2 linked regions of the Homo sapiens genome follow. Changing the gene in region 1 together with any one later gene gives a genetic interaction. Each region holds a gene or a part of one and is shown on either strand. Other genes may lie near its edges.

Region 1 (3,752 bases):
CTCTCTCTAATAAAAATACAAAAATTAGCCGGGCGTGCTGGCTTGTGCCTGTAGTCCTAGCTACTTTGGGGAGCTGAGGCAGGAGGATCACCTGAGCCTTGGGAGGTGGAGGCTGCAGTGAGCCATGATTGGGCCACTGTACTCCAGCCTGGGCGAAAGAGTGAGACCCTGTCTCAAACAAAACAAAGAAACAAAAATCTGAATTGTAGACTCTTTGTAGATAAGAACATATTTTTTAAAAAAGTTAAGACTAGGGCCAAGTGCGGTGGCTTTCACCTGTAATCCCAGCACTTTGGGAGGCTGAGGTGGGCGGATCACCTGAGGTCAGGAGTTCAAGACCAGCCTGGCTAACATGGTGAAACCCCATCTCTACTAAAAATACAAAAATTAGCTGGGTGTGGCGGTACACCCCTGTAGTCCCAGCTACTTGGGAGGCTGAGGCAGGAGAACCACTTGAGCCCATGAGGCGGAGGTTGCCGTGAGCTGAGAACGCAACATTCAACTCCAGCCTGGGCCACAGAGTGAGACTCCACCTCAAAAACAAATAAAAAGTTAAGACTAAAACAGTTTATAGTGATTAGGAGTTCAGCTGTCTAGTTTTGTTTTTGTTTTGAGATGGAGTTTCACTCTTGTTGCCCAGGCTGGAGTGCAATGGTGCGATCTCGGCTCACCTCAACCTCTGCCTCCCAGGTTCAAGCAGTTTCCTGCCTCAGCCTCCCGAGTAGCTGGGATTACAGGCATGCGCCACCACGCCCGGCTAATTTTGTATTTTCAGTGGAGACGGGGTTTCTCCATGTTGGTCAGGCTGGTCTCAAACTCCCGACCTCAGGTGAAAAAGTGCTGGGACCTCAGGTGAAAAAGTGAGTCACTGCACCTGGCCCAGCTGTCTCGTTTTTAGAAATAGATTAAGACTCAAAAAAAATATTGCCCACCGTAATATATCTGATTATTAGCAAAGCTTGGACTAGAGTCTAGGTTCTAGTCTAGTGGCCCTTGTACTATACCTGTAATTTTATTGCTTTCTAGTGCATTGGATGATTCCAACTAGGCTGACAAAGTAATAATATCTAAAGGTTAGCCAGGACCATTTCAATAGTTAAGAATTATTATTTTTTTCTTTGGTTTTTATTTTATTTTGTCTTCCTTTTTTTTTTCATTTTCAGGAAGTGAGCAGTTTCTCAAAATTATTATAATTAATGGACCAGCTAATTTGTATAGTGCTTAAAATATTTTAGTAACATAAATTTTACTAAATAAATTTACTAATTTAGTAAATAAATGTTCTCCTTTTATTTCATTGTAAACATTAATTTCTTTAGTAAATCCTGTATTTATATTGTAAATGTTTAGCGATAAAATAATGATATTTCACTGTTTTTGTTTGGTCTAATATTTAAGTCTGGTAGGTAGTATTAGCAGAGAGCAAAACCTACAGTTTATGAAATAAACATTCATTGAGCACTTAATGTGTTCCAGGCATTCATTGTAGTATGTGGTAGGATTCCAAGGATAAATATGGCAAAACAAATGCCTTTCTTCTGTTTTTTTTTTTTTTTTTTTTTTTTTTGAGACGACGGAGTCTGGCTCTGTTGCCCAGGCTGGAGTGCAGTAGCGCGATCTTGGCTCACTGCAGGCACTGCCTCCCGGCTTCACGCCATTCTCCTGCCTCAGCCTCTCAAGTAGCTGGGACTACAGGCACCCGCCACCACACCCGGCTTAGAGTGTGTGTGTGTGTGTGTGTGTGTGTGTGTGTGTGTGTGTGTGTGTTTTAGTAAAGACAGGGTGTCACCGTGTGTGTGTGTGTTTTAGTAAAGACAGGGTTTCACCATGTTAGCCAGGATGGTCGCATTCTCGTGTGTGTGTGTGTGTGTGTGTGTGTGTGTGTGTGTGTGTGTGTGTGTGTTTTAGTAAAGACAGGGTTTCACCGTGTGTGTGTGTGTGTGTGTTTTAGTAAAGACAGGGTTTCACCATGTTAGCCAGGATGGTCGCATTCTCCTGACCTCGTGATCTGCCTGCGTTGGCCTCCTAAAGTGCTGGGATTACAGGCGCGAGCCATCACACCAGGCCGCCTTTCTTCTTTTTTTTTTTTTTTTGCTTTTTTATGTTCGTCTGTTTTTATTTTGCTTTTGTGTGTTTGTTTGTTTTTCCATTGTTCTTTTGAGGCTGGGAGATTATCATGAGCTGTCAATTCTCAAGCTTTATCTCTGTGAGATAATCTGGTAATAGTTTTATAAAATGTAACCTGTTAGCACTATTAAAGGACATTGTGTGAGTAGATATGAAGAGACAAACAGTAGTGATAAGATAAAAAATACTTTAGAATTTAACAAATACTGTTTCTGTATCTTAGAGGTCATGTGCTACAGTGTTTGGAAAGAGCCCTACGTTGGGTACCACAGTACAGGTTATTGACTTTGTTTCCAATTAGCTGTGGGATTGTGCATGTCAATGACCCCATCTTTCTTTACATGTTCACATTTTTGATATGTTATTTTAGGTGTTGAATTCAAAACATAAAAAGGGTATTTTAAGGCCGGGCGTGGTGGCTCACGCCTGTAATCCCAGCACTTTGGGAGACTGAGGCGGGCGGATCACGAGGTCAGGAGATCTAGACCATCCTGGCACCCCTCTCTGCTAAAAAAAAAAAAAAATACAAAAAATTAGCTGGGCGTGGTGGCAGGCGCCTGTAGTCCCAGCTACTTGGGAGGCTGAGGCAGGAGAATGGTGTGAACCCGGGAGGCGGACCTTGCAGTGAGCCGAGATTGCGCCACTGCACTCCAGCCTGAGCTACAGAGCGAGACTCCGACTCAAAAAAAATAAAAGGGTATTTTGAATATTTTATTTTATTTATTTGTTTTTGAGACATTGTCTTGCTGTGTCACCCAGGCTGGAGTTCAGTGCATGATCCCAGCTCACTGCAACCTCCACCTCCTGGGTTCAAGTAATTCTGGTGACTCAGCCTCCCAAGTAGCTGGGATTACAGGCGTGTGCTACCACACCTGGCTAATTTTTTTTTTTTTGGTATCTCTTTTTTTCCCCTCGGAGACAGAGTCTTGCTCTGTCGCCCAGAGCTGGAGTGCAATGGCTGCGATCTCTGTTCACTGCAGACTCCGCCTCCTGGGTTCAGGCAATTCTCCTGCCTCAGCCTCCCGAGTAGCTGGGATTACAGGCGCACGCCACCACAACTGGCTAATTTTTGTATTTTTAGTAGAGACGGGGTTTCACCATGTTAACCAGGTTGGCCTCGAACTCCTGACCTCGTGATCCACCCACCTCAGCCTCCCAAAGTGCTGGGATTACAGGTGTGAGCCACCACACCCAGCCTTTTTTGTATTTTAAGTAGAGACAGGATTTCACCATGTTGCCCAGGCTGGTCTTGAACTCCTGACCTCATGTGATCTGCCCGCCTTGGCCTCCCAAAGTGCCAGGATTACAGGCATGAGCCACTGTGCCGGCCTTTGAGTATTTTAAGTTATAAAAGAAATATGTGTTTCTATATATATTATATAATATATATTATACATGATATATAATATATATGATATAAATTATATTATATACAATATATTATATATGATTAATATATAATATATGATATATCATATATAATATCAAAATATATAATATGTATATAATAATGTATGATATATATAATATAGTATATAATATATTACATGTATAATATATTATATATAATATATAATACAATATATGTAAAATATATATAATATATAACACAATATAATATGTAA
Region 2 (3,752 bases), on another chromosome or scaffold:
ATGTGTAACATGTCTAAAGTTAACACTGCTCAAAGATAGTGGAACCAAGGCTCCAACACCAATAGCCTGGGTCCGCTGAGCTCAATCATTGCACCTCACAACCCTCTGGGTTTATGAAAATAAAAAGGGTACGGACCTGGCCACTAGGGGACTTGAACAGTTTCTAAACAGACAATTATTTTCTGTTTTTATTTTTAGTGTGGTGGCATGATCACAGCTCACTGCAGCCTCAACCTTCTGGGCTCAAGTGATCCTCTCACCTCAGCTTCTGGAGTAGCTGGGACCACAGGTGCATGCCACCACACCCGGCTAATTTTTAAATGTTTTTGGTAGAGATGGGGTCTTGCTATGTTGCCCAGGCTGGTCTCAAACCCCTGGGCTCAAGTGATCCTCCTTCTGCCTTGGCCTCCTAATGCGCTGGAATTAGAGGCATGAACCACTGCACCAGGCCAACAGACAATTATGTGTGTTATCGTTTTGGGGTTACTAAGTCATAGTGGAGTGAATGCAGCTTTGAGGATGCTCAGGCAATGCTTGAGCTGATTGTTCATGGATGGGCCTCTGCAGATAGACAAGGGGATGGGGTGTAGCGGCACCACAGAAAGGGGTGAGGGCAGGGCAGCTGGGTGTGTTTGGCTTCAGGTCCTTTCGTGTTTGCGGTCTGGTCTGTGATAGGGATGTATTCGGAGACTTTGTATTCCAGAACCGAATGCTTGGCCGTCTTACTGAAGATAATGACTGGGAGAATACTGACCAGTTTTGATTAGGGAAGTCATGAGCCAATGTGCATTTTGAAAAGCATAATTTCCAAAAGGCAAAGCATTTTGCTATTGCAACAAAATCTCCATTTTACAGAAAAAAAAAAAGGAAAACAAGATTTACTCAACTGAAATAAACTGAAAGAAAAGTTGATAGAACTTTAAATTGTTAAGGGTGGGAAAGTCGGGGAGGAGCCAGTAGACTTCTGTGTCACCACACCAGCCTCTTTCCAAGGGCTCAACTCATAAACCATGCCATTAACTGGCTTTATGTTGAAGGGAGGCCTTTGGAATCAAGCCCACTGTGACTCCATATATCAAATGGGAAATTATTTGGGAAAAGATTTCTAAAGTGTCTCCATTTCCCACCACAGGGTCATGCTCTATCAGATTTCAGAAGAAGTGAGCAGATCAGAATTGAGGTCTTTTAAGTTTCTTTTGCAAGAGGAAATCTCCAAATGCAAACTGGATGATGACATGGTAAGACCTGGTATCTTACTGAGATTTAGTCCTGAGACTTGGTTAGCCAGGGGGCATTTCTGAGACCAAAGAGAGGGGTATTTTGGTAAAAGCAACCTGGATTCTCACTTTTTAACTAGAAGAAGAAAGTTGTCAGCACGAGTGTTACAGATGTGATTCCTTTAGACCGAAGTGCTGCTCATGTTAATTATTGGGAGCAAGGCAGAGTCAGAGGCCGGGAGAAGGAGGCTGTGCAGATGCAGCCCAGACCCGGCAGAGCTGGGAAAGACTGCGGTGGGTCTGAGATATTTCCTCCACTTCTGCAGTCCCCGAAACAACCTGGGACCTGAAACTCTGTGTGTATATTGTGTCTGTGTGTTGTGTGTGTATTTCCGTGTCTGTGTGTGCCTTTCTCTGTGTATAGTGTGTGTCTGTATTTGTGTGTGATATGTGTATCTCTGTGTGTCTCTGTATAAGTGGTGTGTGTGTCTGTGTATCTCTGTGTGTGTGTTCTCTGTGTGGTATGTGTGTCTGTGTGTTGTGTAGTGTGTATTGTATTTATGCCCCTGTGTGTGTATCACTGAGTATACTCTGTGTGTGTTGTATCTGTGTGTGTATGTGCATGTGGTGTCTGTGTGTGTGTGTCTGTGTGTCTGTATGTACTCAGGTCTGGAGAGGCAATGCTGGGGGTGAGGCTGTTCCCCAGGGTGTCACCATGATGACCGGGCTGCTGTCTCAGGTTGTTTCACAGTCCCCAAGTAATGCATTCGCAGGAGATTTGAGCACAGGGCCTGGGGACTGGGTGACATCTGACATGGCTTCTCCTTTATCCTCTCACTTCTGTCTTTCTGGGCCAGAAAACATGGAATCGCTTCCCTAGTAGCCTGCTGGCTGTGAGAGACCAGCAGAAACTGTCAGAAACTTGGGAAGCAAGGGCAGGTCCTTGGTTGGAGAAATTGGAAATTAAAAAAAAAAATCTAATCTAAAAACCAGTAGGGCTCAATCCAGATTCCCAACTTTATTTCTCCTCCTCTTAGAACCTGCTGGATATTTTCATAGAGATGGAGAAGAGGGTCATCCTGGGAGAAGGAAAGTTGGACATCCTGAAAAGAGTCTGTGCCCAAATCAACAAGAGCCTGCTGAAGATAATCAACGACTATGAAGAATTCAGCAAAGGTAGAAACAACCTGACAGCCGGGAATCGGCAAAACCTACTCTAAAATTGAAACTGACAAATCGCTCCATATCACAGTTGTTTCTAATCAAATATTGTTTGGGGTTTCCCCTTTTAATTCAGAGAGAAGCAGCAGCCTTGAAGGAAGTCCTGATGAATTTTCAAATGGTAATGCTTGGAGATACATTTTCAAGATTTAGTTAATTTACTATCTGGTACCTGCATGTGTCCTCCCCACAGCCTTCTACCACATGCACATCTTAACGTGCCTGCTCTACTTTTTCTTTTTTTTTTTTTTTTTGTGAGACAGTTTTACTTTGTTTCCCAGGCTGGAGAGCAGTGGCACCATCTCGGCTCACTGCAATCTCCGCCTCCCAGGTTCAAGCAATTCTCCTGCCTCAGCCTCCTGAGAAGCTGGGATTACAGGTGCGTGCACCACCACGCCTAGCTAATTTTGTATTTTTATTAGAGATGGGGTTTTACTATATTGGCCTGGCTAGTCTCAAACTCCTGACCTCAGGTGGTCTGCCTGCCTTGGCCTCCCAAAGTGCTGGGATTACAGGCATGAGCCACTGCGCCCGGCCGCACCTGCTCTCCTAAGACCTGTAGCCCAAGCTGGCAAGTTTGAAATAGGTGCAGAGTTAGTCAGTAGTAAGTAATTTAACATCATTTTTTCTATGTGGCTTTTTTTTTCTCCTTGACGTGCTGCTCATGTTATGCACTGAGTAGCTGGATTTAAATTATGTTTCATAATTTTCTTGGTTAAGTCACTTTCTCTTTCAACACCTTCTACACTAAGTCACTCCTTTCAACTTCCTTTCACTTTTTCTACCTGATAAGCGAGGCTGAACCAAGAGAGAGAGCTCTCAACGATCTCCTTCAAAATTTTGATTAATCAAATAGTCTTTTTTTTTTTTTGAGACAGTGTCTCACTTTGTCCCCCAGGCTAGAATGCAGTGATGCAATCTTGGCTCACAACAGCCTCGACCTCCTGGACTCAGATGATCCTCTTGCCTCAACCCCCTGAGTAGCTGGGACCACAGGCACAAGCCACCATGCCCGGCTAATTTTTGTATGTCTTGTAGAGATGGGGTTTCGCTATGTTGCCCAGGCTGATCTTGAACTCCTGAGCTCAAGCCATCCACCTACCTGGGCCTCCCAAAGTGCTGGGACTATAGGCAATTAATAAAGTATTCTTTCTGATTAGAAAAATTATATACACTAATTGAAGATTATTTTAAATTCAGAGAAATTTTTACAAGTCCAAGAACACCATCACTCCATTCATATTATGAATATTTTTATTGTATTTTTACGTTGGCTCTTTGTGGTGTGTGTGTGTAAAATACATTTTGGATCAC

The links. Genes that interact genetically often act in the same process or in processes that back each other up.
Region 2: of XIAP (region 1) and CASP8, changing one suppresses a phenotype caused by changing the other (phenotypic suppression), as found in Homo sapiens cells (one study listed by BioGRID).

Annotation. Positions count from the first base shown.
Region 1 is NC_000023.11:123,862,915-123,866,666, forward strand, and holds part of XIAP (E3 ubiquitin-protein ligase XIAP), read left to right. Parts: intron 1-3,752.
Region 2 is NC_000002.12:201,270,384-201,274,135, forward strand, and holds part of CASP8 (caspase-8 isoform 2 precursor), read left to right. Parts: intron 1-1,132; coding exon 1,133-1,238; intron 1,239-2,254; coding exon 2,255-2,393; intron 2,394-2,514; coding exon 2,515-2,559; intron 2,560-2,719; coding exon of another isoform or gene 2,720-2,817; intron 2,818-3,752. UniProt on the Homo sapiens protein: Thiol protease that plays a key role in programmed cell death by acting as a molecular switch for apoptosis, necroptosis and pyroptosis, and is required to prevent tissue damage during embryonic development and adulthood.